Regions from separate parts of the Homo sapiens genome. Here region 2 is linked to region 1. The links come from fine-mapping of genetic effects on plasma protein levels. A gene starts in region 1. The other region holds a variant in brackets. All regions are shown on one strand. Distances are between the middles of the regions.

Region 1 (16,695 bases):
AGCTCAGACACTTAGATGGCTTTGGGTAATCACTTTACCACTTGGGAACTCAGTTTCTTCTCCTGTTAAATTTCAGTAACATCTATTCCTATGTATCTCACAGGGCTCCCGGAAGGAATGAATAGGCTAATTTCATGTACATAAAAGTATATACAAAGATCGTTTTTTTTTTCATCTCAAGTTTAAAAAATTATCCCATCAGAACTGGGAATCATCTGTGAAGATGGTATTTTCTTCTTGTCTAGCTAAGAGCTTCTCAAATCACCTTAGACCTTGCTAAATGCAGATTCTGGTTTGGTAGATCTGGGGAGAGGCAGGAAATTCTGCATTTCTAACAGACTCCAGGCAATATTGATGCTGCTGGCAGTGGACTACATTTTGGGTAGCAAAATCTTAGCTTATCTTGCTGATAGAAAAGCATATTAATAATATATAAAATCTCCTATTCCAAGTTATTCCTCATATCCATACATTCCTTTTTAAGAATATAATCACCTAGGCTATAAGATATATTGGCACTACACTAGGTCAGTAGTTGGAAACTTGCTTTCTGCTTTCAGGGCTACCCTCTACCTGCTGTTCATATCAGGATGAACTACATAGCTTAACTTTATACCTGTTTTCCCACCTATACAGTTATTCTTTTCCCTGCTGCTTTAGTGTCCTTTAGAAAATCAAACGACATGATGTGCAGGAAGGTCCCACAGAGTTCACAGTGCTCAACAGGAGCCAGACCATGGTGCTGACATGTCCTCCTGCACCATTGGAGACATTCAGCTACAAGGAGCTGCTAATAGCCACAGCCCCAGGACTGTCATTGTCTCCTCACCACAGGATTACATTTAAGAGATATTAACCAAAGAAAATTATTTAAAAAAATAATTGTCCTCTGTATTTTTAGTAGAGACGGGGTTTCACCATGTTGGCCAGGCTGGTCTCAAACTCCTGACCTCAAGTGATCTGCCCGCCTTGGCCTTCCAAAGTGCTGGAATTACAGGCTTGAGCCACCGTGCCCGGCCTAAACAAAAATTAGCCAGGTGTGGTGGTGGGCACCTGTAATCCCAGCTGCTTGAGAGGCTGAGGAAAGAGAATCACTTGAACCCAGGAGGCGGAGGTTGCAGGGAACCAAGATTGTACCACTGCACTCCAGCCTGGGCAACAGAGCGAGACTCCGTCTCAAAAAATAAATAAATAAATAAAATAGTAATAATAATTGTCCTCATCTGCATATGTTTTTAGTATGAATCCAAGTTTTCAGTTTCCTCAAAGCAGAACTAAAATAAGCCATTGATGTTAAATGAAACTTCTGAAATTCAGCTGCCCAGGGGAGCTGCATTTTCACTGGGATCCTCTGGTTTCTAAGAAGCCTAGTGTGTCATGACATGGAGCACTATCCAGCCATTCTGAGTGGCTGCTTGTGACCTTCACTTTCCCTTCTGGGAAGCCAGTCACCTTCTTATAATAGTTGGCGATTAACACTAAGCCCTCCTGGGTCAACTGGTCCGGATTGTATCTCACAGTCTCATAACAAAGGCAGTTTTTTGCTAAGAAACAGAAAGTAAATAGCAAACAGACCACTGAACCTGATACTAGGTCTAGAAGGAATGTTTCTATCTAAATATTCCCCCAAAGAGCTTTTCCTGCTTAGAAAAACTGTGAGGTTAGCCAGGAACATCCTATCCTTCCTCTCACAGAAGTAGGATCTTCTGCTAATTCAGTAAAATTTTAGAAAAGAACTTTAAAAAAGGAAACATTGGGCTGGGCATGGTGGCTCACACTTACAATCCCAGGACTTTGGGAGGCCAAGGCAGGAGGATCACTAGCCCAGGAGTTTGAGACCAGCCTGGGCAACATAGTGAGGCCCCTGTCTCTACCCCACCCCCCAAAAAATTACCCTGGTGTGGTGGCATGCTCCTGTAGTCAGTCCTAGCTACTCAGCAGGTTGAGGCAGGAGAATCACTTGAACTCAGGAGTTCTAGGCTTCAATGAGCTATGATCACACCACTCTACTTCAGCCTAAGTGACAGAGTGAGGCCCTGCCTCTAAAATAAATAAATAAGAATTTCTTAAAAAATGGAAGCATGTGGTTTTTCTATTTCTGTAGTTCGGGTTGTTTAGGAAACTAGAAAGAGTAATGGATTTTGAGTTGAAAGACTTAGAATTAAAACTCACATTCATTCGTTCATTCATTCATTCACCCTGCATTTACTACCTGCCTATCATGTGTCAAGTACTGCACTAAGTACTCAGTGACAAAAGGGGGAAAACTTATAAAAATGAGTAGTTTGTGACCCCTGGCATTGAGAAGCCCATGTTGTAGTGAGAAAAATAGACAAGATTCAGAATGCTCTGTACCAGAGAAGAGTCTTGTGAGACATGCTACAGAAACTCAAATGACGGACTGGCTCCCCACATTTAGTCTGGGGATAAAGGCAGTGAACTGTTGGAGGGTCACAGAAGAGATCACATTCAAATGGGGGTTTGAAGGGTGAATAGGAGTTCACCAGATACAGAAAAGTGGGAAGGAATAATGCTAATGAAGTCATGCAGAGAAAAGAGCAAGCAGAAAGGCGTAGAGGCCTAAATAGCCTCTAAAATAGCCCAAATTTGTTTATTTTGGACTCCATTTAAACTACAGACTTTCAGGGCTGGAATAGATTTTTAAGATTGCTGGACCCTCTCATTTATAACCAAGGTGTATTTAAAAGTAAGCATTTAGGGATATTTTTCTTAGCCAACTTCTTTTTATACAATCCATTCTTCTCTCATTAAAGATGTTACATTTTCTAGAAAAGAATAGACTCACATAATTTTGCTCATGTTCATTTTGATCCTGAGTTTCAGCATGATACAAAATAGAGGAGAAATATAATAAATTTCCTCCAGGAACATGGCAGCGACACTTGTAAAATTAATGATATAGAAATTTTCAATGAAAACAACCTTAGGTCAAATTTCTCATTTCAGATTTGCAGTGGAGATTTCATTGGCATGTCTTGCAAGTTAATAGGAGACAGAGATACCTCTTGGGGGATAAAAATACATATATATCTGTGTGTGTGTGTGTGTGTGTGGATTCATTGCCTAGGCATACTTTTCAAAATGAGAATAGGATTACAGATAATACCTCCTTCACAAACTAATGTATCCTAGCACTGGTTGTTTTTAAGCGATCATAAATATCTGACATATATCATCAGGACTTGAAATTTAAAATATAAATCTGTAAGTACTCTATTAATGATGCTCAGTTCCATTTCTGAAGATGGGAATGTAACCATGGAGGCTAAACAGAAGATGTCTCACAGGCCAAAAGGTAGAGGATATTTTAAAGCATCCTGAATCCAGGCCAGGCATGGTGGCTCACGCCTGTAATCCCAGGACTGAGGCCGAGGCGAATGGATCATGAGGTCAAGAGATCAAGAACATCCTGGCCAGCATGGTGAAACCCCATCTCTACTAAAAATACAAAAATCAGCTGGGCGTGGTGGCATGCACCTGTAGTCCCAGCTACTCAGGAGACTGAGGCAGGAGAATCACTTGAACCCAGGAGGTGGAAGTTGCAGTGAGCTGAGATTGCGCCACTGCACTCCAGCCTGGCGACAGAGTGAGACTCCATCTGAAAAAATAAGTAAATAAATAAATAAAAAGGCATTCGGAATCCAGAGACATGGATTCTAATCTCGACCTTGAACTCGGGTAAAAAATGTTGATAATAGTATCTCCTGGGCAGGACCATTGTGAAGGTCATGGAAATATGATGGAATTTAAAGCAGTATTGAGAAATTATTTTTTCCCACTTCACTTTAGGTTACTCAAATGGCACCAATGTGCTAATTAAGGAGCTATGATTTGAAATCCCAGTTAGGTCCTGGCTTATGAACATAACCTTTTCAGCTTCCCGCATTGCTTTGGAATTCTTGTGTCCCAACACTCCCCTAGACACTCCCAGAATGTGAGCTTACCCTGGCAAGGTACCAAGGGATGGGCCATTTGTTTATCAGCGTTGCCTGGTACTGGCAAGGGTCATTGAAGGTGGGATACAATTATAGGCTTGCCCGTCACTCGGCCCTGTTTGTAACCTGGGTCACAATCTCCATCATACCACCTGGCACGACTCTCTGGGCCAGTCCCTGAGATGACTATGTTGTCAAAGACAAATCGTGGGTCAAGATTGAAATGGGGGACAGTCTGGAATTTACGAGGATGAGATAGAATGGACAGCCCTGTGACATCAACTTGGAAGAGGTTGGACTCCAGATTTGGATACTCAGATCCCGGTGAGAGACTACCTTGTGCCCACTTTTAAACTAAGATGTAACTAATACCATAGAAGAGATTATACTAGGAATGTGCTTCAGTGGGGCAGTGGGAAAAACACTGGATCAGGTGCCAGAGGCTGGAGTTCTAGTTCCATTTTGCCTCTTCGAAGCTGTGTGATCTGGGAAAACCGTTCAATCTCTCTGAACTTCAGTGTCTTCACTAGAATGAGGGCAATAATCCTTTTGATTTCACTATTGCTGAGAGGACCCTATTAGTTCAAGTACTGTCATATCATTCTGTAAATTGTAGAGTAATATAAAATGTGAGAACCAATTAGGTTCTCCCACAATTTTAAGTTGTTATTCATCAATCTGAATTTTCAAAAGAATAACTAAACTGTGTATTTTGGGCACATTCTTCCTAATCCAACTATTTCTCCCTCCCTCCCTCCCTCCCTCCCTCCCTCCCTCCCTCCCTCCCTCCCTCCCTTCCTTCCTTCCTTCCTTCCTTCCTTCCTTCCTTCCTTCCCTCCTTCTTTCCATCCTTTTTCCTTTCCTTCCCTCCCTTCCTCTCTCCATCTCTTTCTCTCCCTCTTTTCCTCTTTCTTTCTTTCTTTCTTTCTTTCTTTCTTTCTTTCTTTCTTTCTTTCTTTCTTTCTTTCTTTCTTTCTTTCTTCTTTCACTACCAACTATAAAGCTGAGCAATGATGAGTTAGGGCAAAAGTGGTGGGTACATAAAATGAGCACCCAGGAGGGAACTTTAGGCCATGACTTTGGGCAGAGACCTCAAGCCACAGTGCCACAATGCCACCGTTTTCAGCTCAGTGCTAGCTCAGTTGGTCATCCTACTAGATGCCTGATTTCCTGCAGTGAGTTCAATTGTCTACACTGGCTGAAGCAAAGATTTTGGATCATAGGAACATATATATATATATATATGGAATCTAAGCGATAGTAATAGTCATTTCTAACTTTATTATTGAAGTTAACATGCCTGGAGCACTGCCCTTGGGTATCGTTTAATCTTCACAACAACCCTTCAAGGTAGGTGCTATTATAACATTTACTTTACAGATGAGGAAATGGAGGCTTTGGGAAATTACATTAGTCCAAGTTCATGGGACTGATATGTGTCACATGAATAGATTGGAACTTACGTTTCTCTGACTCCAAAGCTTTACATATATTATTTTATGTCAGTTGCTTTACATATATTATTTTTTAATACTTACAACAGCTGCCCAGAGCAAATTTTATTTCCATTTTTATGGATAAGAGAACTGAAGAGCTTAAGTAGCTTTTCCAAGGTCACACAGCTAGTAATTGGAAGAGCTGCCATTTAACCCCCCGTTAAGCTGGTTCTGTATCTCATGCTCCTGTTTATAACACTGGAGAGAGGACAAGGGTCAGCACCTCCATCACCCAGACTTCCCAGTTGATGGGAATTGAGACGTGACCAATCCATTGTCTCTCCATGGGACACAGAGGGTATTCAAGGGTGGGACTAACAGGGAAACTGAATTCATTCACTGAAATCAATGACTTTCTGAGTTACGGCTGTTCAACATGGAAAGGGCTTCCTTGGAACTGGAGATTTCTTCTGCACTATTGATTTTCAGCTGAGGTGGGGACGGATGTCCAAGTGGCTGCTATACAGTGAAGTCCCTTCAAGGGTCCTTTAAGCCCTGAGACAGATTTAAGGATCTGAAAAGTGATTGAAACCTCACTTTGCAGAAAAGCTGCCCAATGGGGTGCCCTCTCAAACCCTCTCCTTTATTCACTCTTAATTTGGGTAAGAAAGATGACATAGCCACAGTGAAAACCATGGGCTTTGGAAGAACCAAGCTTAAGTTCAGAAACACTAACTGTTGAACACTGGGCAAGTTGCTCAAATTCTCTGACCCAGTGTCCTCAATGCATGTCCTCATGTAAAGACAATATGAGAAGGCTTGTCTGGGAAGGTTGTTTTCAGGTTAAAGAAGATAATAATAGCTAAGACACCATATAGAATTACTTAATACATAGCAGGAATTGAATAATTGTAGTTACTTGCATCATGACTATTATTGTTGTTATTACATTATCTCCAGTTTTCAAGTCTGTTCTTTTAGAACAAACAACTCACTCCCTGCTTGTTTTCCATGGCCCTTCTGGTTCAGACTGTGAATCAGCTTTGTTTTTCAGCCTTTGGAGTGTGCGGTGCCCCAGGACAGGTGTGCCCAGGTCGGGGTGAGAGTCGGTCCCCTTGCGTTGTTGGATTGGGTTGGAGGCAGCATGCCTAGCCAGGGGCCCTGTAGTCTGGGGAGCTCATGCCCTTCAGTTCTCGGTGTAGGACATTCAAGGTCAGTGGCTGCTTCCTCCTGAGCTTCTGAACCCAGATATATGACGTCCTCCGGCCAGAGGCCCTTTCACAGAGCCCAGGAAGAACAGGTTGCTCATTGCCAGCATGGAAATAAACCTGAGTGTTGGCTCTCAGCCCCTTTTAAACTCAGACATGGTAGACATACATTAAATGAAGGCTGTAGAACATGGGCATCTTACACCTTTTGTGAAATTATATCTGAAGCGTGGCCAGCTTTTACTTCCCAAAACTCACTCTTTGTTCTATTTTGACCTCTACAATTTATTTCTAAAGACCACATCATATCCCAGTTTACCTCCTGGCTCTGCCGCTTTCTCAGCCATGTGATGCTGGGCAATTCCTAAGCTTTCTAGAACTTTAGTTTCTTCCTCTGAAAAATGAGTTTTGCATAACTTTTTGTGACCCTTAAATAAGCTAGTACTCGTTCCATGCCTGCCTAGGCCATAAACGACCATCAAATCATGATCAACCCTTTCCCACAGTAAAGCTCAGAAAAGGCTCCATCCTCAATGCCCTTTAAGACCATTACTGTCTCCCTTCCTGCCATTCTTCACTGGGATGAATAACTGCAGTTTTTCACATTTGCAGGCATCACATTTCTCTTTGTGCATGAAGCCCAACCCTCTATACAGTATTTATTCACAGATATCTGAACAGCACACTTGTAACTGGAAATCTGTCTGCCTCAAGACTTGTATTTCCTGTGTGTTATATTCCTAGCCCTGGGTCTTTCCTCTTGTAAAACAAATTAATTATCTTCTAACTCCTGGTCAGCTTCTTACCCACTCTGACCTCTGGACTTTTATCAGCACGCTTGTACTTAGCAGGAAACCCCCCCAAAACCCACTGGGTTTGGCTGTATGCCTTTTCTCAACGTTCTCACATATTTGTACGGTTATATTAAACTTTACAAAAGTACTTTCCTATACTTTATCTCATTCAATTCTCACAAGTCCCTTTGATAGAGGTAGGCTACCCTTAGTTTTATTGTTCAGAAAATGGAAACTCAGATAAGTTAAGTGATATTCAGAGCTATAATTTGAACGGGCTCTATAACTGATTATCTTTATTTTCTTCTTGAATATCCCAGGATTTCTGAGTTTCTATTCTATCAAGATTCTGTCTCCACTTCCTCCAAGGGAATTTTGGCTATTTGCTGGCTGAATGCTGCTGCAGCTCCCTCTTCCTTCATTCCTCTCTTCCTCCCTTCCTCCCTCCCTCCTTCTCTCTTTCCTTCCCCCCTTCTCTCCTTCGAAGGAGGAGGCCCCTTGCCCTGTGTCTCCTGTTTCTGATGGATGACACGTGTGTCTGGGCTGCAGAGCACCTGTCTGCCTGAACCCCAGGGAGGACACAAAGCCCTGGGGCTCAGCTACACCTCCTGCCCAATAGCCTGGGCTCATTGCCACTGACCACAAACGACTGAGTTGTTCAGAAAGGGAACAAAGCCAAGTCATAAGACTCCCTCACATTTTCTGGATCATAAAGCAGTTCTACATGCATTGTGATGAATTGTATGTACCCAGCATTGAGATTTAATCCCAGATGTAAACTGAGGACACAGGCCATCCCCAATTTCCCACTCTTCGTGCTGTTCACTTATACCCTTCCCTGCATAGAGCTGCCTCTACCTCCCTCCAGCCCTGACATAGGAGATGGTCCATACATGCTTATTAAATTACATTGAATCGTATTGCAGAGACAAGGTTCCTCAGACCAGTAACTCAACTCCTCCTTCTTGGAGGAGTCACCACCTTGGCTCAGGAACAGGGCAGAAATTAGAGTCGGCAGCTTGGATCTTTCAGCAGCATTTCCACTCAGACCATTGCTTAAAACCTCTTCTTATTCTCAATCACACCTATGTCTGTCATTCACTGGGATATTTTAAAAAGTCCTTGACTAAAACCTAGAGGAAACAGTGGGAATCCTAACCACTGGATAAATTATCCTCCCATTTAATAGAGCTTTTAATATATTTCAACATAGCAATGTCTTTTTGGGGTCCAGTTTTGATTAATTTCAAAAGATTAAAAGCAAACTTGTTGCTGAATATCTTTGGGATACAAAAGTCTATTTAAAATCAACAAGCCCAAAATCTCAGTCATTCACCACGACCTTTTGAATAACACCATTCCAGGTAAATTGAGCATGGGAAAGCTGTCTTATATATTGCATCTAGTACAATCGCTTATCGCTTTGTATCTGTGCAGTACTTTACAGTTTGGAAAAAATGTCGCCAATTTGTATTGATCCTTGCAGAAGAGGAGACCAAGCCCCTGAGGGCAGGAACCTTCTCAAAGTCTGTCATCCATGAATTATATGGTGGTTGTAAGACGAGAAGGTCAGCAGACTTTCCATTATTTCCTCCCGCTTTCCAGTTGTTCCAACTAAGATGACAGGAAATGTAATTCCACCACGTAAGTAGTTTTATAATGAGGATAATTCTTTACTCATTTATCTGCCTATGAGGTCCCTTAAGCCCCCTAAATATTAACCATCCTTGCAGGAATTTTTTAATACCTGCTAGATCCACACCAGAGTCAAGTACAACTTGAGCCTCCTTGCACAGAACCAGAGAGGGTGCTGGCACTTGAGACGTAAAATGTGCTCTTACTCTATGGGACCCTTTATAGTCCAAACCAGCCACAGAACCAACCCACCTCCAGCTCAAATGTCTGCCTTGCTCCACTCACCTGCCTGTGTGGACTCCGTTCAGCTCAACTGAGTCTGAGGGGCTCTTGTCCTCTTTAAATATATGAAGGCTGTCACCAGCCTTGGCCTGCTGGGGGAAGGGCAGGAGGGAGGCCAAGGGAGAGGGTGAATGAGACGTGAGTAACACAACTGCTATCAGGGGCTGAAAATAGACTGTGACCAAAGCCCTGAGTTTTGTCTCCCCCAACCCCCCAGCCAGCTGTGAGCCTCTTGGAGAACCGAATCACTTGGGTTCTATTTGCACTGCCAATTGCTTATGGCACCAAGGGATCAATTTATGAAGTGTGTCATTTCTGATCAAGTGGTTGGAACAGGAACAAGAGCTAAGGGTTTAACATCAAAAATCATTTCTCCAGGCCCCCACCCCACTGACCTTCCTGGAAATCATTGCAGGGTACCTGCAAATGAGTCATGTGCCATATCTGGGAGCCTCTGGAACTTAGAGCCACAGGTCACCACACTCGTGAAGAGAACTCAGAGCTAAAAATAAGGGTGATGGGTGTCTGAAACGATACTTAGATAATCTCTTCAAAGAAGCTTGGGAGAAAAAAGGTTGGCACATCACTTGGGACCTGTCACTCCATCTATCCTAGGAAACGAAGTTTTCTCTAAAAAGTTTTGATTTACTTTGTTATTATCCTTTTCTATTTAAGAATTTGATACAGCAGTGCATATTTATCATCATCACATTATATTTATAACATCTTGATATGTCTCTGTAGACCCATATTTTCTTTGGAGGTCTAATTTTTCTTTGTCTGGAATTCACACCGTTTAAATTTGATCAAGCACCAGGGACTGATATAAATTATGGCATTGAAAAGCTGACAAGAGGTTCAGAGATGTGAAGACCAATTCTTCATGTTATAGATGAGGAAACTGAGGCACCAAGCCCCTTCCACTCATGTTGACCCGGATGTTGAGGTAAGGTACATGTAGAACCCAACCGGGAGGTTCATGATCCAGCCTTCACATCAGATATTAGCCCTTTGGTTACCTGCCCACAAAGCAATTGTTGAAGGATAGAATATTTCACTGTCAAGAAGGTTGCAGTAATTTCACAAAGACGGCCGTGGCATAGCCTCCTATGAGATATCCGTGGTCTGTGTTTTCACTAAATGGCATCTTCATCATAAAGACGAGGCAATCACGAGGATTTTAGAAAGTTAAAGCTAGAAAGGACTTTAGAAATCGTCTAGGATAGTGGCTTTTGTTTGTTTGTTTGTTTGTTTGTTTAGAGAAATGGTCCCGTTCTGTTGCCTAAGCTGGAGTACAGTGGCATGATCACAGCTCACTGCAGCCTCGATCTTTTGGGCTCAAGCAATCCTCCTGTCTCAGCCTCCTGAGTAGCTGGGACTATAGGCGCACACCAGCACGCCTGGCTAATTTTTTTGTAGGGATGTGGTTTCACCATTTTGCCTAGGCTGGTCTCAAACTTTGGGGTCAAGTGATCTGCCCACCTCGGCCTCTCAATGTGCTGAGATTACAGGCTTGAGTCACTGAAACTGGTCAACCAATAGTAGCTTTAAAATTTTTTTTGTGTGTGTGTTTGCATCAGAATACTTTTTTCTGTAGATAAGAGGAAAATCAGTATATAAAGCAGATAAAAGAGGAGCTTCCAGTGATGATGAGCATTTTTTCATGTGTCTTTTGGCTGCATAAATGTCTTCTTTTGAGAAGTGTCTGTTCCTATCCTTCGCCCACTTGTTGATGGGGTTGTCTGTTTTTTTTTCTTGTAAATTTGTTTGAGTTCATTGTAGATTCTGGATATTAGCCCTTTGTCAGATGAGTAGATTGCAAAAATTTTCTCCCATTTTTGTAGGTTGCCTGTTCACTCTGATGGTAGTTTCTTTTGCTGTGCAGAAGCTCTTTAGTTTAATTAGATCCCATTTGTCAATTTTGGTTTTGTTGCCATTGCTTTTGGTGTTTTAGACATGAAGTCCTTGCCCATGCCTATGTCCTGAATGGTATTGCCTAGGTTTTCTTCTAGGGTTTTTATGGTTTTAGGTCTGAGAAATGCAAATCAAAACCACGATGAGATACCATCTCACACCAGTTAGAATGGCGATCATTAAAAAGTCAGGAAACAGTTGCTGGAGAGGATGTGGAGAAATAGGAACACTTTTACACTGTTGGTGGGACTGTAAACTAGTTCAACCATTGTGGAAGTCAGTGTGGTGATTCCTCAGGGATCTAGAACTAGAAATACCATTTGACCCAGCCATCCCATTACTGGGTATATACCCAAAGGATTATAAATCATGCTGCTATAAAGACACATGCACACTTATGTTTACTGTGGCACTATTCACAATAGCAAAGACTTGGAACCAACCCAAATGCCCAACAATGATAGACTGGATTAAGAAAATGTGGCACATATACACCATGGAATACTATGCAGCCATAAAAAATGATGAGTTCATGTCCTTTATAGGGACATGGATGAAGCTGGAAACCATCATTCTCAGCAAACTATCACAAGGACAAAAAACCAAACACCGCATGTTCTCACTCATAGGTGGGAATTGAACAATGACAACACATGGACAAGGAAGTGGAACTCACACACCGGGGCCTGTTGTGGGGTGGGGGGGGGGGGGTAGGGATAGCATTAGGAGATATACCTAATGCTAAATGACGAGTTAATGGGTGCAGCACACCAACATGGCACATGCATACATATGTAGCTAACCTGCACATTGTGCACATGTGCCCTAAAACTTAAAGCATAATAAATAAATAAATAAATAAATAAATAAATAAATAAAGAGGAGCTTCCATGCATAAGTTGGAGTTGAACAATGAGAACACATGGACACAGAGAGGGGAACAACACACCCCAGGGCCTGCTGTGGGGTGGGGGATGGGTGAGGAGAGGGAACTTAGAGGATGGATCAATAGGTGCAGAAACCACCGTGGCACACGTATGCCTATGTAACAAACCTGCACACTCTGCACATGTATCCCGTTTTATTTTTTTAGGAGAACAAAGGAAAAAATAAAGTTATAATTAAGCATTAAAAAATAAAAGGAGCTTCCTTGCTTGAAATGAATGCTGCACTTTGACCGTCACGTCTTGCCCTCTTTGCACATTCTGAACTTGCCTTTACACACCTCCCCACAACATGATGTGTAGTTTCAGTTTTGGATTGTAATTAGTTTTGTTCATTATGGGTTAGTACTTACTTAAACCTAATGATAAATTTTAGTGCTTTCTTCACTCAATTACTGTTTTGTTATTGTTGTTGTTTGTTTTTTGAGATGGAGTTTTGCTCTTGTCACCCAGGCTGGAGTGCAGTGGCGCAGTCTCAGCTCACTGCAACCTCTGCCTCCTGGGTTCAAGTGATTCTCCTGCCTCAGCCTCCCAAGTAGCTGGGGTTACAGGTGCCCACCACCATGCCTGGCTAATTTTTGTATTTTTAGTAGAAACGGGGTTTCACCGTGTTGGCCAGGCTGATGTCGAACTCCTGACCTCAGGTGATCCAACCAACTCAGCCTCCCAATTACTGTTCTTTATTTACTTTTTGTACCTTACATTTTTAATTCTGTGTGTGTGCATGTGTGTGTGTGTGTGTGTGTGTGTGTGTGTGTGAGGTAAATCATTCTCGATGAATTCATTGAGAGAGTCTGCTGTAAACTTACTGAATTATCACATAATGTAACAAATGCCATAGACAGGCTGGTTTAAACAACAGAAACTTATTTTTGCACAATTCCAGCAACTGGAAGTTCAAGACCAACGTGCTGGCAGGGTTGGTTTCTTCTGAATGTAGATGGCTGTTTTCTCTCTGTATCTGCACACGGTCTTCCTTGTGTATCTGGGTCCTAATTTCCTCTTCTTACAAGGACAGCAGTCATATTGGATTAGGAGCCACCCATATGATTTCATTTTAACTTAATTACCTCTTTAAGAACCCTATCTCTAAATACAGTCCCGTTCTGAGCTACTGGGAGTTAGGACTTCAACATACGAATTTTGGAGGGACACTATCCCGCCCCTCATAGTCTTCATTTTGCTTTCACTTGAATGCTAGTTTGGTTAAATTTAGGAATCTCTATCCAAAATAATTTTCAGTCAGACCTTTGAAAACTGTCTTCAATTATTTTTAGTAACGTACATGACAGTTTGGTGCCAGTCATATTCATGTTCCTTTATTGACTTGTCTTGTTTCCTCTAGAAACTTTCAGGATCTTCTCTTGAATTTTATGACAATTTCCTGTGTTACGGCCTTTTAAATTTTATTTTGCTTGAAATTTAGTGGATGAGTTCAACTTGAAAACTCACTTTTTTTCCTTTAGGAAATTTCCTTTTATTATTTCTCTCATTAATCCCTCCCTATATGTAATGTTTCCTCTTGCTGAAACTCTCATTAGAAGTTAGAATTTCTTTGTCCTTTTATGTTTATTAAGGGAGAATTCCTTAGCTCAATCTTACATGGAACTAATTTGCATTTCCTCCATGTACATTCTGCTCAGCTCATCTACTGATTTTAAAATAATTACATTTATAATTTTTAAGATACCTAATTTTTTCATATAGCCCATCCTTGCTTTATAAATGACATATCATCTTGCATCTCTCTGGGGATATTCATTATACTAACTTGGGGGAAGTCTTCTTTGTTTGCTCTATCAATTATGTTTTCTTGGATATTTGTTCTTTTGTGTGTTGAGTTTGGTGTTTCATCTTCATAGTGCTGGTTTTTCAACTATATTTGGGATTTTTGGATATGTGTTTACCATGTCATTTGAGAATTTCTGTTTTCCTTTTGGTGGATACCACCTCTGATTAAAGGAGCTTTCCCGCAGGGACTGTGGGACAGGGATGGAGCCTGCTACCAGGTGTGTGCAGTGGCGGTGTGTTTCCTGGGTGTGAGCTGTCCCACTCTCTCTGGAGGTCACTGGTTCTATGGGGAGTTCCCTGGGATTTCTGGCCCCTTAGTCTGGAGCCACACTGGAAAGTGAGGAAAGCTCCTAGCCCTGGACCCATCTTCTTATCCATCACCCTTGTGATAGCCCAGGGTGCCTTCCACTCTGCATGTCCCAGGACATGCAAGTTTGGGATGTCCCAGGACAGCTCCTGCCTCGCCACACGCTGCTACACTGCTGTGGCCAGGACTTCTCGCTCTGTTAATCCACAGCCTTCTGCTTTCTCTCTGGAATTCTTTGAAATTTCTCACTTGTTAGTGGACACTTCTTTTTATGGTGTTGTTTTCAGTGTTCTCTCTAATTTATTTTCTTTTAAATCACTTTCTGGAGTTCTAGGGTCTGTCAGCATTCTCCAGCACTGTGCTGTCCAACACAGTAGCCATAACTGCACGTGGCTATATAAGTTGAAATTATTTAAGATACGTAGAATGTAAAAGTCAGTTTCTCAGTCACAGAAGCCACATTCCAAGTGCTTAACAGCCACATGTGACTAGTGCCTCCACAGTGAAGAGGATAGCTACAGAATGCTTCCATCACTGCAGAAAGGTCTCTTGGACAGCACTGCTCTACATCTTCTGAATCTGAAAAGTGAAGAAATTCCTAAATCCCTTTTGAGATGCTATGAGGAATAGGTGACAGTAAGCCCGTGTTGTGCACACAGCAGGGTGCTCAATCAGTACAAGCTGAACGTCCACTCAATGGCAAGTGAATTGGTGGTGCTGGGACTGGAACCTGCTGTTTCTGCCTCATTGTTCCCAGAATTACCATAAACAGGTGAACCATTGAGAAACAGAGGGCATGAAGGAGACCAGGCAAAAGCGTGAACCAGGACAGTGAGGGCGACCTGAAATCACATGCCTTAAAACACTGCCTTTATACCCCAAATCAGAAAAAGAGAGCTCAATTAGAAACAGTGATTTATTTAATCCTCACAAGAACTTTGTCAAGAAGGCATTATTATTCTTCCCCTGGTATGAATGAGGAATGAAATAAATGCAGTCCATGAAAATGAACTAAATCTCTTACGCCACACAGTTAGGTCAACGGGAAATTCACGGCGATGTTAGGACCAGTATCCATTGCTTCCTCATTCGTATTCCTTAGGATAACTAAAAATTAGTAAGTCAGGGGGAAACACACATCACAAAGGTGATGAGGAAATTCAAACCCAGATCTAACCCAAAACCCTTCCACAACATGGTTCCAAAATGTGTTTGATTATGGTCCCCTCATAAAACATTTTTGAGCAATACACACGTGCACAAACACACACACAGTATAAAACATATTCACAATGATGCACTAAAAAGATATTAAATAGAATACAAGTCTCAATCTTTTGTCTCATACTCTAGCATTATTTCTCATGTTTCCTAGGGGGCTCCCCACCTCCTACTTTGAGAATCACTGATCTAAACCATGCCACATAAAAGAGGGAACATTTTGTGAGAGGGACTTGCAGGCTTGGGAATCTCAGCTTCCATCTGCTCATCTAAACCGCTCTGAAAAGAAACATAATTGGACCATAATGTATTCAATGTCAGCCACATTCTTTGAGTAACTAGGGCTTTTCACTATTTCTGTGCACCAGTGGTCTGATATTTGTCACTGGCTCTTATTTCAAAAAGAGAATTAACTCTAACCTACCATTCAGAGGTTGCTCCTGACCATGCGTTGCGTCTGTGAAAAGCATGGAAATGGGCAAAGCAACACATAAGTGCATCAAGATGGTTCTTTTTTTCCAAGAAATAATAACAAATGTCATCTTTACTGAAATGAAATGAGACTTGATGAAACAAATGGCTCATTTATTTACATCATCCAGATTTTTAAAAACGGGCCTCCTTATTTTCATGGCCATTCACTGCTTGCTGTGATAACAGTGTTTTCAGCTTAAAAGCACTATGATGTGTTTGATTCTCTCTTGGGTGCAATTTCTCTCCTCTGTGTCCCTTTATCTCTGTTTCTGCCTCTCTCTGAATCAAAGGGAAGATATAGGTGTTATTATCCCCTTTTTATAGATGAAGAACTTTGTTTGAGAAGTTAGGTTACACAGCTAGTATATGGTAAAGTCAAACCTTGAACTCAGATTCTCTGTTCCAGAGCCAATGCTCTGATGGAAATTTTAACTAGTAGAATTGCTTTAGTCAGAATTTGATCTAGTTGGCATTATGTAGTTGGGAGAGAGGACAGGGTGGGGCTGAGCACCCACATAGCCAACGTACCAGCTTAACTTTATCTTGCACTGAGAGATTAGCAGGGTTTTACAGAAACAGTCCGACAGATTCAGAAGAGGCTGTGCCTACATTTGCTATTCAGCTGGTACAAAGCCTTTAGGAGAAGCCTGGAGCAGCACAAGTCCCCAAAGTGGGTATCACATGGCCAGCAAATCGACAGAAGTAAATCAAATTGCAGAGGTTCAGAGTGGAT
Region 2 (16,695 bases), 3.0 Mb after region 1:
CTCCCGCTCCAGACGCTATGGGGAAGGGGCTGCTGGCACCTTGGAGTCTCGGGCCATGAGCCGGCCTTAAAAGGGAGGGGTTCCTTTAAGGGAGAGGGACTTTTCCCCACGAGACCAAAAGTAACTCCCAACTGGGAGAGGGGTTCTCTCCGAGTGGCACGCATGAGCGGATCGATGAAGACCCGGCCAACCGGCTGAGGGAGCATCGGGACCCCCTTTGGGGATCGGAGGAGGAGGATTCCGACAGGAGGGAAGCGGCAGCCCTGGGGAACCAGGATTCCTGGTCGTGGGTGGACCCAGTGGAAAAGGACGTGCGAAGCCTGTACAGAATGGAGCAGGCCGGCCAACAGGGCCGGGGGGCGGCGGGTCCCGAGGAGGGACGGGAGGCTGCATGTCCGGAGGAGGTGCGGGAGGCGGCAGAGCAGGGACCTGGGGACGGCTTGAGCGGAGAGGAGGGGGCCAGCGTGGAGCCAGCCGGGCCGGGGGGCGGGGAGATGGCGGTCTCCGAGGGTGGGGCGCCGGCCGGTCTTGCGGTCTGGAGGCGGGGAAAGAGGCGTGGAAACAGGGACGCAGCGAAGGGGAAAGGAAAGCTGCCAGAGGGCAGGAGTGGAAAGGATCCTGGCGAGCACCGGGAGGAGTGGCGGCTGCGGGATCAGCTGCCGAGCAGGCACAGGGACAGGTGCCTGGAGAAGTACTGGGAGAGCGCCCAGGAGCGCTACCGGCTGAGGGTGGGGAAGCGCAGGGCCAAGCGCGCGAAGCAGGTTGTGGGGGACCGGGTCGAGTGGAAGTACCCGCCGGAGAGGAAGGCCGGCTGGCTGTGGCGCCCAGAGACGGTGGAGTCCGAGGAGGAGGAGAAGGAGGCCTGCAGAAGGAAGAGCAGGCCCTTAGAAGTCCAGCAGCAGCAACTCCGGCGGCCCACAGTCAGATTCAGCACCTGCCTCAGATCTCCACGTCTGTCTCAGCTGCCCCTCTCCTGCTGCCTCTCAGGCACCAGTGCCATTAACGAGCTGGCGAAGATGGGCGACCCGGATCTCCTGGAAGTGTTGGCGGAGGAAGGTAGGACCGCGCCAAGAGGCGTCAAGGGAGAGCCAGGCTGGCTGCCTGCACCCCTCCACCCGCGGCGCAGAGGCCCCGGGGGACGTTGGCGGCCCTGCGGCCTGAGTCCTAGGGAGGTTCGCTGCGTGGCGTGCTCAGCGCGAAACCGGGACTGCGGGGCAGAGTCCCCCGCCTGGGGTGAGTGGGGTTGGTTTCGGCGCCCCACAGATTTCTCTGCTGCTCCTGCGCGCCAGGGACCTGCGACCTGTGACCCCTATGGTTCCGGAACACCCTCCTTGCTCCCCTGCAGGCCTGGGAACCGCCGAGTAATTCAGGGCTGCTAGGCTAGCGCTGCAGTGCTTGGGTCTCCGAACCCAGCCAATGGAAACGAAGGCTTTCCCAAAAAAAGCAGCAGTATAGAGTGCAAGACAGCTATCCCACGTGTAAGGAGCTGGTCCTTGAGTCTTATTACCTCACTCTCTCTGCCCGTTACTTATCATGCTTTGAGATGCTTGTTAATTGTAGGAGTAGCAGATCCTAAAATCTATCAGTTTGAGATACTGAGAGCCATAGGCACTTGGAAAAGCTGCTGCTGCTGCTGCTGCTGTTGCTTTTCAACAGCTTTCATTAAGCCCTTTAGTTCCGTTGAGAAATATTTATCCATTGTTTGCCAAAGCCTTTACACCACCTGTATTCCGTGGACCTATTTTAATACATGTATTTTCCTTAAAATGCACATACTATTTTGCTGCTATCTCCAGGACCCCAGTTCCTTCAATGATATTTTATTTTCATGTCTTGTTTAGTGTTGGATTTAAACACAGAAACAGTTTTCCAAAGTGACAAAAGATCTGATCATTACTATTCAGTCTTCAAAGGCACCGGGAAATACCGTGTGTTACTGCATCCTCCTCGTTCCCTTTTTTAAGCAGCTTTATTGAGATATAATCTATATACTGTAAAATTCACCTATTTGACGTGTAAAGTTGGATTTTTTTTAGTGTATTTACAGAGTTTTGTAACTATCATCATAATCTAATTTTAGAACACTTTCATCACCCCAAATAGAAACCTCTTAGGCAGTCACTTCCCATCCTCCCCACTTCCTACCAGTAATCTCTTTATTGTCTCTATAGATTTGCCTATTCAAGACCATTCGAATAAATAGAATCATACAACATGTGGTCTGTTGTAACTGGCTTCTTTCTCGTAGATTAACGTTTTTGAAGTTAATCCATACTGCAGCTTTTATCAGTGCATCATTCTTATTAATTGCCAAATACTATTCCGTTGTAGAGATATAGCATACCTATCCATTCATCGATGGTAGGATTTGTGTTATTTCCACTTTCTTTTGCTTCTATGAATAATGCTGCTATGAACATTGATGTATCAGTTTTCATATGAACATATGCTTTTATTTTCCTCGGGTATATATCTAGGAGTGGAATTGCTGGATTATGTGGTAGCTTTATATTGAACATTTTAAGAAACTGCCAAACTGTTTTCCAGGCATCTGCATGTTACCTTCCCATCAATAATGTATGAGGGTTCCAATTTCTGTACATACTCACTAACACTTGTTATTGTCTTTTTTATTATAGCCATCCTAGTGGTTGTAAAGTGGTATCTCAGTGTGATTTTGATTCTATTGTGATTTGATTCTACTGACTAATGTAGCAAGTATTTTCATATACTTATTAGTTATTCACGTTTTTGGAGAAGTGTCTATTCAGATCATTTGCCTGTTTACAAAAATTTAGTTGTATTTTTCATTATTGAGTTGCAAGAATTCTTTATATATTCTGAATACAAGTCCCTTATTAGATATATGATTTACAAATATTTCCTCCCATTCTGAGTGTTATCATTCTATGTTCTTAATGGTGTCAGTTGAAGCATACCCCCCTTATTTTTTTTTTTTTTTTATTTTTTGAGACAGGGTCTGGCTCTATTGCCCAGGCTGTAATGCAGGGGCATCATCTCTGCTTACTGAAACCTCTGACTCCCAGGCTCAAGCGATCCTGCCACCTCAGCCTCTGGAGTGTCTTGGACTATGGGTGCTGCACCACGACCTCCCCAGCTAATTATTATTTTTTTTATGAAGATGGGGTTTCACCCTGTTGCCCAAGTTGGTCTTGAACTCCACAGCTCAGCTGATCCACCTGACTTGGCCCCTCAAATTGCTGGGATTACAGATGTGAGCCACAATGCCCAGTCACACTCCCCCATTTTAAAAAAGGGCCTTTGTAATCTATTTATGCTTACATGTGATCCAAATTGTGCCTCTGATTAGGGTGGAGGTGAGAGAAATAGATATTGATGAGGAATACCGTATATTTGATGGCTGGGACTAATTACTGCATTCTGCCCAAATTCCTGTATCTAGATATATTCAAAGAACCAGAACCCAAGCATCAGGGAAGTGTGGCATTGATGAGATCAGGGCCTAAAGAGCAGCATAGTTCAGGCCACTCATATGACTCGTATATTTTTAGATGTTTCTTAGCATGTCAGTTCTTTTGCTGGTTTAGTTTTACTGCCCATTATTGAGACCTGTGTTCTTATTAGGTATCTTAGCCTACTTTTTTTTATTGCTATAACAGAATACCACAGCCTGGGTAATTTATAAAGAAAATATTTCGCTTTTGGTTCTGGAGTCTGGAAAGTCCAAGAGCATGGTATTGGCATCTGACAAGGACCTTTGTGCTGCCTCTTAACATGTTGGAAGGTCAAGGGAGCACATTAGACCAAGAGATAAATGTGTCCAAACTTATCCTTTCATTAGGAACCCAATTCTAATGTAACTGTTGCACTCCCATGAGAATGGCATGAATTCATTCATGAGGATGGAGCCCTCATGACGTAATCACCTCTTCAAGGCTCTACCTCCTAATACCATTACAATGACAGTTAAATTTCACCATGAGTTTTGGAGGGATATTTAAACCATAGCACTAAGATGTATGAAAAGTTCATTGTTATGAGAGTTTTTTTTTTTTTTTAATGAACATTCCAGTGGATTTTTAGAACTCTGCTTCCAGATATATTTTCTCTTGGATTTAAATGACACTGTTGGCTGGGTGTGTTGGCTCACGCCTGTAATCCCAGCACTCTGGGAGGCCGAGGCAGGTGGATCATTAGGTCAAGAGATCGAAACCATCCTGGCCAACATGGTGAAACCCCATCTCTACTAAAAATACAAAAATTAGCTGGGTGTGGTGACATGCACCTGTAGTCCCAGCTACTCGGGAGACTGAAGTGGGAGAATCCCTTGAACCTGGGAGGCGTACGTTGCAGTAAGCCAAGATTGCGCCACTACACTCTAGCCTGGTGACAGAGTGAGACTCCGTCTCAAATAAATAAATAAATAAAATAAAAATAAAATAAACGACACTGTTATGAAAACAAAAGTGTTGGCTGAAGAAGGCTGAAAAATTCAAGTTCCAGAGCATCAATTTTTAATAGCTACTTTCATTTCTATGTTTTAAAATATAAGAAGACTTTTTAGACTAAATTTACCCATATAGGTAAGCCTTGATTTTG[T/C]ATGTGCTTTCTAAATCACCTTTAAATACTGAATATGAGAGTTAATTTATAAAATTGATTGTAAGAGAGACAACATAACATTTTGCCTTTTAGACTTAATAGATCTAAGATTTATTACATCTTCTCTACTTTTTTCACAATTAAACACATGAGGAATCAGTGATCTCCAATTGGCTAATTTCCTACTATCTTCTAATTTTAAAAATGAAATTCTAATGGCAGAAGTTAATAGAGCACTTAATTAGTTACATAAACAAACATTGCCAGTAAAATGTCATTGCTGGAATTTAACTTTTTTTTTTTTTTTTGAGGTCTTACTCTGTTGCCCAGGCTGGAGTGCAGTGGTGTGATCATAGCTCACCATAGCCTCAAGAAATGTTTATGCTTTAGCTGATTTATGATACAGTTGGTATTGGAAAAGACAGTTTGAGACTTTAGCATTGGAAAAGGCAGATTAAAACTTGAACGTTAGGTTGTTTGCATCTTTACGGCTATGTTAAGCATTGTGTCCAACTAAGCCATCCGTCTTTAGTAATGTTAATATTTGATTAGAAATATTTTATTTTATACTGCTAGTAAGAGTGTAAACTGAGAAGACCAGTTGGTAAGTACAAGTGCTATTTTTGGGCTGTGGATTTGCTGGAGTGTGTATTCTTAGTCATGTGCTTTCAGTGAAAACTCAAGACTCAGTCTTTAGGCTGGCTTTACTTTTGGCAAGTATTTGATGATTCTCCACAGTGATTGGTACCAAATCTTTCATATCCCTGGAATCTAGCCCGCAGGGAGAGTATAGTGCTATCCATTCATTTTAGAGGAAGTTGGAGGAATAGAAAGAAGCTGACAGAGTTGTTGGCTTCAAATCCTGCCTCTTCAGTCAGGCCTCAGTTTTGACAGAGGTTTTGGTGATTATGCATAGTCACAGCATCTTTATACTCCATGAGGGAGTATGAAAGTGTCTGAGTCTATGGTCTGTGTGAACATCTAATTGCAAGGGTGCATACATGTGAGAGAGCTAGCGAGCAGTAAGTGTGCAGGGGTGAGAGGGAGCATGGTGTGTGTGGAAGTAAATCTATCCTCTTGAATGTCCCGATGTTTCACAAAAGGATGCAGTTGACAAAATGTGTCTCTGTTGGTTCTCTGGAGCTGACAGTCTTGTGGAGGGATGTGTATTTGAGCTAGGTGTCCAGAGAGGGCTGCATTCAAGGTGGTATGGGAGCAGGTGGGAGGCCAATCCAGGGGACAGTTGAGGTTTCAGGCAAGGCCTGAAAGGAGGAGGTCTAGGCTGATATAATGTGAAAAATAAGCAAGAGTTAGAAAGGGAAGAAACAGTGTTAGTTCTAGAGAAAGAAAGCTGTAATTTTAAAGGTTAAAGTGTGAAAGGAGAGCTAGTAATAATAGGAGGTAATCTGGGGGATTCATATTGTCCCTTTTCCACATTCTCAAATAAATGCATCGCATCAAATTTTAATAGCAGCTTGAAAATATTTTTTCACCTACTTGTTTTATGTTAAATGGAACAAAAATAATTAGGAAAAAGAGGGGCTAGTGTTTGCAGTTTTTCAACTTTCTTTTTGTAAAAATAGAATTGTAAAACTCTTTAAACCTAGCTTAAGGTTTGCAGTTGCTTGATTGTTCTGTGATTGGAACTATATTTTGTTTGATGCATTGTTCTTTGGCATAATAGTGACTGTTTTTGTCCTTAAAAAAAAGCCTCTCTAAGTCAATGTTAACTATCATATCTTGAGACACAAGGCTTGTATTTCTTAGAATCCTATTCTTTATCTATTCACTGTAAAGCCATTCTAAATTGGTCTCCTTTTCATTCACAGATCTAACGAGAGATGATCAGGATCAGGATCAACTGAGTTTTGAGCTATGTGTTTAGGCAGTAATCATGGGTAAAACCCATTGATGATAATACTGCATGATGTTTAATATTTTTCAAGCATTTCCCTTTAGATTTGTATCTTTTACATGAGAAAGCCTGCACTCAGAAAGTTAAGTGGTATAGCTATAGTTGGTTAGTTTTCATGTTTTGCTTAGAGTAAAACATTTTAAGAGCAGATCCTGCAACACAAAGATCTGAATACAGAAGGAGTTATTTCGATTTTATTCTGACATTCTGAAACTTAGCCCAAGGAATTTACAGCAGTTTTGAAGCTTAACAGTAGAATAGAATAATAACAACAATATCAACAAGAATAACACCTGCTTACCTCCTATATGCCAAGTACATGCATTATCTATTTAGTGCTTACACAAACATTATGAGATAGACATACCACTTATGACAGCTGAGAGCTTTGAATTTATGTCATACTCTTGCAATGGATGCTAGGAAATGTTTTGTTTGCTTGAGTACATTACTACACCATATAATTGAGGTTCTATTAGCAAAGAAGGAGGAGGAGGAGGAAAGATATTTGTCAGTAGCCTGTAGCCTCTGCTGTATTAGTCACCCACCATTAAGTCTTTCCTATTTTATTAAAGGACATCTTCTCAAATTTCTCATGCTTAGGAGTCTTCTATTTCATCTTAACATAGTTTTATGAAAATAGGTATATTTTCTAAAACAAAGTAAATTTAGTGATAAGAGTGCATTGTTCTACTTTAAAAAAAATCTCTTTGATCTCTGGCCTGATAAAATATAGGTATTCTCGTATCTGCATTACATTCACTCTGTTGTGATGTGTTGTGTTTTGGTTGAAGTGTATGAAAAAAATCTGGCCTCTTAGAGATCTATAGTTGAAAAGGGAGGATAATTTTAGAAAGTTTTTGAATAATTATGGATATTCTTCTCTGATTTGCCCCCAAATTCAACGAATAATAGGTTCTTTAAAGTTAGATATAATGTAGAATTTGAAACCATTGAAATGAACTTTTATTTCACTGCTGCATTAAAATCTATTGGTCTGTCCTTCACTTTAAATGTATCTTTTTCTCATGCATGGTTTTGTAACATCATGTATTGCTTATTTGGAAAACAATTATCTACTGAGTTATACAGATCTTCCAAATGCTGACATATTTCATTTTAAAATACCAAAACGTAATGCTAACATCATCACTGATCTTATCAGGAATGCCTTGGGAATCTGTTAAGCACACAGTGACGGTCATAAGTTTACAAAAATTATTTCATTTGCAACTCAAATTTTGTCATTGGCAATAAATACTGTCAGGTGTTTTCCATGAAGTGATAGATTCATGTCATTAATGTTTGAGGTAATATCTGACAAATAGTCAGGTCTGTATGACTCTATATGTTTTCCCATCATACTTTCAACTAAAATGGTGTTTTATGAAAAATTTAGCTACTTTACCTTGCAATGTAAAGTACTTTTTCATGAGGCAACCATGGTACTTTGGAATGCAGCATCAGCGCTTCATGCATTCTTCCTGTTTCTTTATAGATTATTAAAAATTTGTGTGTTCAGGGTCAAGATTTTATAAACTTCATAAGCTTTACTGTTTATCAAGGACATTTTTAAGTTAAACTACATTTTTGTTTCTTTTTGTACTGAGAGTGCATGATGGTGGAGAATATAATGACTACTAATATAGTCTGGTGCCATAGCCTTGATTCACATGATGGCACCAGCAGTTTTATCCCATTGTTTTTGCATCACCAGTGCAAACGTCAACAGAATGAAAAAGACAAATATGGTTTTAATATTATTATAAAACTTTAAATACAAAATAAAATGTATAAATTTGACACATACAAAAAGTAAAATAAATTGTATCTTGATGGGGGATGGCAGACAGTACTTTAAAATTGCTGATATAGGATTTGAATTATCACCTAGAAGGAGAAGTTGTATGGGTGTGTTTTGTATGGGTGTGTTATGTATGTGTGTGAGTACTGTTGTCTCTCAGTATCCACAGGCATTGGTTTCAGGATACCCCACTGGTACCAAAATCCAAGGATGCTCAAGTCCCTTATATAAAATGCCATAGTATTTGCATATAACCTATGCACATCCTTGTGCATGCTTTAAATCATTGCTAGATTACTTATAATATGTAATACAAAGGAAATGCCATGTAAATATTTGTTATACCTCTTTGCACAGTGCCTGGTGCATGGCAAGTTATCATTATATTTTGGCTTTTCATTTGCAGCCACAGTGAAAAACTTGGCTCCCTTGTCAGCTCGCTCATTCAATTTTTCAATAAATGTTTATCAGCCGTCTTTCATTTGCCAATCAGTGTGCTAAAAGAACAAAATCAAAAATTGTGCTCACTTTTCAGAAACTTATCTTCTTTTGCGGATAAAAAGATAGTAATTAAAATGCACAAATATTCGTGTAAAATTGAAACCCTGACAAGTGCAAATAGAGATATATCAGATGCTTTGAACTAGCCAGATATGTGAAAGAAGGCTTCCCTGGGGAGAGAGTGACTTTCAAGCTGATATCTGAAGGATGTGAAGAATTACCCAGGGCAAGGTGGGGAGAGAGAGAGTGTGTTATTCCCTTTTGTGCTGTTATAACAGAATACTACAGACTGGGTAATTTATAAACAATAGAAGTTTATTTGGTCCATGTTCTGGAAGCTGGGAAGTCCAAGGTTGGGGACCACGTCTGGTGAGCCCCTTCTTGCTGTGTCATAACATGGTGGAAGGCATCACTTGGTGAGAGAGCATGCACACATGAGATGGCCTAACTTTCTTTCATAACAAATCCATTCTTGCTATTACAAATCTATTCCTGTGATAACAGTGCTAATTCATTTATGAAGGCAGAGCACTCATGACCTAATCACCTCTTAAAGGGCCTACCTCTCAACATTGTTGCATTGCAGATTGTTTCTGACACATAAACTTTGGGAGACAAATTCAATCCATAGCAGAGAGCATTCCTTACAGAGGAATAATTGTGTGTTAAGGCCCCTCAAAGAGGGAGAATGGAACTGAAAGAAGGTATAAGGATCTGAAAGGAGACTAGTGGGCCAGACTTAAGAGCGTGAAAGGGTGAGGTTGGAGAGGTTGGTTGGTTTTAGTTAATTTTAAAGAATTTTATTGTTTGCCAAAGGCAAAAAACTCATATCAAGAATGACCCCATCTTATACTAGCAAAGCTATGACCCATAAATCTGCTTTTTAAAATAAAATAAAATTATAAATAAAATAAAGCTTTCTTACAAACCAGTGTTTATTTTCACATACAGCCTCGTTTTAACCAATGTACAGATCAAAACTCAAAATATTCCTCTGCAGAAAACTTTGGACTTTATTCCCTAGCTGACCTATAATGGTTGAATTTCTGTCAAGTATAAATTTATGTATATAATGGGCTTAATTATTTAAGAGAATAACTGAGGGATTTGTGTGATCTTTGAAAAGGAATTGGACTGTCATACTTGGGTTGTGAAAAAGCTATACAAATGGTAGATTTTTTAAATTTTTTTTTGACTTATACAATTGCTTTATTTTATTATTTTTTACTTATAAGAACAAGCATTTATTTCTCACAGTTCTGGGTGCTATGAAGTCTAAGATCATGGTACTGAACTCAGTGTCTGGTAAGGGCTTGTTTCCTGGCTCATTAATGCCATCTTCTTACTGTGTCTTCACATGATGGAAGAGGGAAAGCAGCTCTCTGGAATCTCTTTAATAAGGGCTCTAATCCCATTCATAAGAGCTCTGCACCATGAGCACATTCAGACTACAGCACCTGAAATACTTAGTGTTTTTTGGCTTTGTAGACACATCATTCTGATTTCTGCTTTTATCTTCACACTGCCTTCTTCTGTGCCTCTGTTCCCTCTTCTTTTCTTAGGAGGACATCCATCATTGGATTTAGGGCCCACCTTAAATCCAGTATAACTTCATCTCTAGATCATTAACTAATTACATCTGTAAAGACTACATTTCCAAATTAGGTTTCAGTCTGAGGTTTGAGATGGACATGAATTTTGGTGTAGGAGAGACATTAGTCAACCCCTACAATAGGTCAATATCAAGTTTCCATATAATAAAGTGTCTTGTTCTGGGCTCTCTGTTCAGTTTCATTCGCCAGTTTTTCTATCGTATTTCTAAAATTATGGTCACTAACTTGAACTTAAAGTGCTAACATTTTATGTGGTTCCCATTGTGATATTTTCTCCAAAAAAAATATATAGGAAGTTTTTGACTTAAATATATCTTAGGGCTTTTTCAAGTTGGAACCACTAGAAAATAAGAATTTCAGTTCTGTATTTAACTTTTTTAGTGTCATAAACTTACTTGAACATGTATTTTAGTGCAAACGACTAAATGCATTACCATTACGGAGCTATCTGTATGTCGGGAAAGTACTCTGGCCTGTGTAGAAACTGGTAGTGTTCTATATACAAGCTGTCTGGTTTGATTTCAGGAAAATAAGGTGAGAGAATATGAAATCTCATGTGGTGAGAACTAAAACATATGAATGGACACCCTATTGGGTATTTAACTCTCAGTGGTTTTGTGGTTATAGGTTGATAACCACATTGATCAGAGTTAAGTTTATTTCTCAGTAATTGAGATTGTATTTTACACATCAGTATTTTATGCTTTTCCTGTTATAGGCAGTTTTAGGTAAGACTTCTTTTGGAGTCTGTTTTAAACAATTTAGCTCCGAATCATCTTGTATCTTTTCTTCTAGTATTTTTTCTTTGAATTTTTTAATTCATTCAATTCCTATTTTTTCCTTACACAGACTTTTGAATATGTTCTGATCAGTGGCTAATTTAACATGTTTTTCTCTTTCTTATTTAATTTAGGGGAAAAAGTCAATAAGCATATAGACTACTCTTTCCAAATGAGTGAGGTAAGTTAAATATATATGCATTAACTTCCTTATAAGTCAGAATAAAAAATCAAGATAAGGTTAACTAAGCCTTTGTACTTATTTACTTATAATACATTCTATTATGCCCTCTAATTTATTCATTTTTTAAGTAGCTAAAGCAAGTTCCATGTTCCATGCAGATTTAATATTGGATCTTTTCTAGATGTTATAAGGGAACAAATAGATCTTTGATTTGTTTTGAGGCTCCCTGTGAAATAAACTCAGATATGCTGATCATTGATATGCAAGATACTAGTATTTGGCTTAACATTTTGCTATAATATAATGTTAGTGTAGTCTGTGATAGCTTATTATTTTACAGTTATTAGTATGATTAGTGCTTATCTATGACTATACTGGAGTTCAACCTGAATTGCATAAACACATTAAATAGAATAATAAATAAATTAAATACTACTTGTAAAAATACAGAATTCTTTTAACCAAAGGACTTCTTATATAAATTTTAAGAACCATACAAACAATTTATATTGCTTCTATACTGAATATAAGCATGTTAAAGGCATTTCAATGAAATCATTTTTCTGATAGACTCTAGTTGATAAAGAATCCCATGCATAGCTCTCACAGAGGTAGACGTCCTTGAGTGGTTTCAGGATGTCCTGCCAGATATAAACAGGATTTAAAAAGAATTTCCAGGAATGATTGAAATTTCTGCTTGGAAAACACGTCCTTCTAGAATAGGTTGGCTATTTGCTAGTTGGCTGGATAAGCTCATTAAGATTCCTAGAAGTTACAGGGTTCCTTTAAAAGTTCAGTGACCCACTAGTCAGAATGGCTATTGTTAAAAAAATCAAGAAATAACAGATGCTGGTGAGGCTGTGGAGAAGAAGGAATGCTTATACACTGTTGGTGGGAGTGTACATTAGTTCAGGCATTGTGGAAGATGGTGTGGCAATTCCTCAAAGACCTAAAGATAGAAATACCATTCGACCCAGCAATCCCATTACTGGGTATATGCCCAAAGGAATACAAATCATTCTTTTTTAAAGACCCATGCATGTATATGTTCATTGTAGCACTATTCACAATAGCAAAGACATGGAATCAACCTAAATGCCCATCAATGATAGATTGGATAAAGAAAATGTGATACATATATATCATAAAATACTATGGAGCCATAAAAATGACAAGATCATGTCCTTGGCAGAAACATGGATGGAGTTGGAGGCCCATTACCTTTAGCAAACTAATACAAGAACAGAAAACCAAATACCCCATGTTCTCACTTATAAGTTGGAGATAAATTATCAGAACACACAGATACATAGAGGGAAACATCACACGCTGGGGCCTTTTGGAGGATGGAGGGTGGGAGGAGGGAGAGGATCAGGAAAAACAACTAGTGGGTATTAGGCTTAATACCTGGATGATGAAATAATCTGTACAACAAGCCCACATGACATAAGTTTATGTATGCAACAAACCTGCACTTGTATCTCTGGACTTAAACTAAAAGTTAACAAAGAAAAGTTCAGCGACCTAAATGCTGAGAGAAACAGAATATGAGAACCAGAGGGAACTATGAAGATCATATAGGACAGTGATTTTATAGTGTAGTTTGCAGATCAATATACAAACAAGAATAAGAATTATATGAAGAATTTCTTAAAACTGTAGACTCTTGGGCCCAGGCTGTCTCAAAATAAAATAAAATAAAATAAAATAAAATAAAATAAATAAAAGGAAAGTAGAGCAAAACAACCCCAAAGCAAGTAGAAGAAGGAAATAATAATAAAAGCAATTGAAAACCAGAAAGTATTAGAAAAAATCATTGAAACCAAAAGCTGTGGAAAGATACATAAAATTGACAAACCTTTAGCCAGACTGGCAGAAAGGGAGTTGCGCTGGGACATATGTAACCAATATCGGGAATAAAGCAGGACATATCAATATGGAATTTGTAGATACCAAAAAGATAATAAAGGAATACTACTAACAACTCTACACACATAAATTTGACAACTAAGATGAAACGGACCAATTCTTCAAGAAGCACAAACTACTATAATCCACTCAACGTTAAAACAATAATTTGAATAGCCCTGTAGCTACTAAGTAAACTGAATGTGTAATTTTTAAATTCCCCTGAAAGACCTCTTCAGGCTTAAATGGTCTCATTGGAGAATTCTACCAAATGTTTAAAGAAGAATTAACATTAATTTTATACAATCTCTTCCAGAAAATAGAAGAAAAACAGATGCTTCTCAATTCATGTCGGATCCCTACGTAACTTTGATACCAAAAGAGACAGACAGTTTAAAAAAAAATGAAAACAAAAAACCTAAAAGTTGGATCCCTCATGTACATAGATACAAAAATCCTTAGTAAAATATTAGCAAATAAAATTCAGTAATATAAAAATAATTATGCAACATGGCCAGGTAGGGTTTACTCTATTGATGGAAGGCTCCATTCATTTTTGTGTGCGTGTGGAAAGGGACAGAGTCTTGCTCTGTCACCCAGGCTGGAGTGCAGTGGCACGATCTTGGCTCACTGCAACCTCCACCTCCCAGGTTTAAGTGATTCCCCTTCCTCTCCTGAGTAGCTGGAACTACAGGTGTATGCCATCACACCTGGCTAATATTTATAATTTTAGTAGAGATGGGGGCTTCACCACGTTGGTCAGGCTGGTCTCGAACTCCTGACCTCAAGTGATCCGCCTACCTTGGCCTCCCTAGGTGCTGAGATTACAGGCTTGAGCTACTGTGCCTGGTCTCCATTCATTTTTTGAAAAACAATTGGTATACTTCACCAAAGGCTAAAGAATAAAAATCATGTGATTTTTATCAGAAAAAATATTGTCAAAATTTAACTTCCATTTATTAAAAATAAACACAAACTCTCAGAAAACCAAGAATAGAGAGGAACTATTTTAACCTGATAAGGAGCATCCACACAACACTTACACTAACAGTATATTTAATAATAAAAGACTGAACACTTTCTTCGTAAGATCAGAATGTCCTCACTTACCCTTCTCATTAAATATAGTACTGACAGTTCTTGCAATAAGACAAAAAAATAAAATAAAAGGTATTCAGATCAGAAAGGGACAAATAAAATTCTCCCCATTTCCAGGTGACATGACGATGTACATAGAAAATCCCAAGAAATCTACAAAATTAAAGACAAAAACAAAATTTCCTAGAACTGAGTTTAAGAAGGTTGTAAAAAATAAGAAAATTATATAGAAATTAGTTATATTTCTATATACTGGTAATGAGAATGTGGAAACCCAAATTGGTATATAAGTTAAAATATCTGTATGACATTTCATAGACATAGGCAAGATTATTCAGAAAATTTTATGGAAATACAAAGGAAGTAGAAGAGATAAAATGATTGTGAAAAAAAGAAGAAAGTGGGAGAAAACCCTCTATGTTATTTTAAGACTTGTTCTTTAGCTGCAGTCTAATGAAGACTGTGTGATATTTGGAGAAGGATAGGCATGTAGATTAATGAAACAGAATAGAGATCCCAGAAATAGCCTCACACAAGTACAGCCAAATGATTTTGGACAAATGTGCAAAAGCAGTTCAATGGAACAAACAGGCTGGAGCATTTGTATATTCATAGGCAAACTTATGAACTTAACCTAATTTTATAACTTATACAAAATTAATTCAACATTGATCATGGACTAAATGTAAAATGTAAAACTATACAATTTTTTGAAGAAAAAATGGATCAAACTGTTTGGAAATTAGATCTTGGTGAAGGGTTTGTAGTTATGTCATATCTGCAAACAAAAACATTATTAATGAAAAGCATTGATAAATTGGAGTTTATCAAATGTAAGAATTATTGTTCCCTGAAAGATCCTGTTATGATGATGAACAGACAGGCTACAGACTGGGATAAATATTTGCATATTCTGTATCAGACAAAGTACTTGTATCTATGATTTATAAAGAACCCATAAAATTTAAATATTTTACAAGAAAAAATGCCCAGTTAGAAAGTGGGCAAAATACATATTGAGATCTTTCACTAAAGAGGAAATATGATGGCAAATAAGCATATGAAAAGATCTTCAATATCACCAGCCACTAAGAAATGCAAAATAAGATCAAAGTGAGATGTCAGTATATGCCTATTAGAAGAGCTAAAATATAAAATAGTGACAATACAACTTACTAGTTAGGATGCAGAGAAACTAGATCTCTCACACAATGCTGGGGGAAACATAAAATGATACAGTCACTCTGGAAAACTGTTGGGCAGTTTCTTAAAAATCTAAATTATGATTTTCATGTAAGTTGGGTAATCATACTCTTGGGCATTTATCCAGCAGAAATGTAAACATATATTCATACGCAAAACCTAAACACAGATATTCACAGCAGCTTTATTTGTAGTAGCCGAAAGTGGAAACAACCTAAGTGTCCTACAGCAGGTGAATGGTTAAACAAAGTGTGGCACAGCCTTATCATGTAAAACTACCCATCAGTAAAAAGGAACAAACTATTAATAAACACAACTTGGATAGATCTCCAGGACATTGTGCTAAGTGGAAAAAAATCTTAAAGGAACACATATGTTATGATTCCATTTTTATGACACTTCTGAAATGACAGTATACAGATGGAGAACAAATTAGTGATTTCTAAGGGACATGGATGTTGAGGGGAAGGAAAATGGACATAAATTTAAAAGGGTAGCATGAGGAAGATCCTTGTGGATGGAATAGCTCTATACCTTGACAGGGCTGGCTCTTACCCAATTGTACACACGTGACAAAATGACCTCCAACTATACAGAGACATTGTACTCATGTCAGCTTCCTGATTATGATATTTTACTGTGGTTATGTAAGATGGAAATAACCATTGGAGGAGACTGGGTAGGGGTTACATGGGATCTGTGTGTATTATTTTGGCAAATTCCTGTGAAGCTATAGTTATTGCAAAATAAAAAGTTAAAAAAAGTGAATACAACTTATTTCACTTTCCTCAATGCTAAATTATATTTTTTCTGACACTCAAATGCAATAAAAACAGGCTCTACACATTGCAGTCAATTTTTTTCACCCCATCTATGGGCAGGAGGCAGGCAATTTTCAAAAAAAATAAGTATTATAGCATATTCATTCAACTATTGGATTGAGGCAGAACTAGAATCAATGGATTTTTATCCAGTAACAAATTTATAGATATGATGAATGTTTTTAGGCTTTTACAAGACAGAAGTATAAGAATTGTAGGTTCATTATTTCAAAATTATTTTATGTTTGAAAAGGTCTTCTGTGCTTTCATGATTGCTTAAATATTAAA

Direction of the effects. Positions count from the first base shown, and alleles are read on the strand shown. Strength reflects both the effect of a copy and how common the allele is.
For the plasma level of the protein whose gene starts at base 9,344 in region 1, allele C in region 2 goes with a higher level than allele T (weak association).

Evidence for each region. A credible set is the group of variants that fine-mapping cannot tell apart. PIP is the posterior inclusion probability: the model's chance that the variant is causal. The UK Biobank Pharma Proteomics Project read protein levels with antibody pairs (Olink). The fine-mapping took linkage between variants from a reference panel, not from the people measured, so its PIPs are less certain.
Region 2: its variant is the best candidate, but not a certain one, in a credible set for the plasma level of the CSRP3 protein (UK Biobank, PIP 0.57).

The regions. Positions count from the first base shown.
Region 1 is chr11:19,192,640-19,209,334 of GRCh38, forward strand. CSRP3 (cysteine and glycine rich protein 3) reads right to left here and starts at 9,344. Exons shown (of 6, transcript NM_003476.5): 1 at 9,315-9,344. CSRP3-AS1 (CSRP3 and E2F8 antisense RNA 1) reads left to right here and starts at 4,074. Exons shown (of 6, transcript NR_183675.1): 1 at 4,074-4,280. RefSeq lists an enhancer at 13,746-16,695.
Region 2 is chr11:22,192,477-22,209,171 of GRCh38, forward strand. ANO5 (anoctamin 5) reads left to right here and starts at 609. Exons shown (of 22, transcript NM_213599.3): 1 at 609-1,056; 2 at 11,328-11,374. The coding sequence starts at 1,017. RefSeq lists enhancers at 87-146, 177-246, 897-986, 1,237-1,426 and a silencer at 427-476. The variant T/C (reference allele first, on the strand shown) is at 4,582.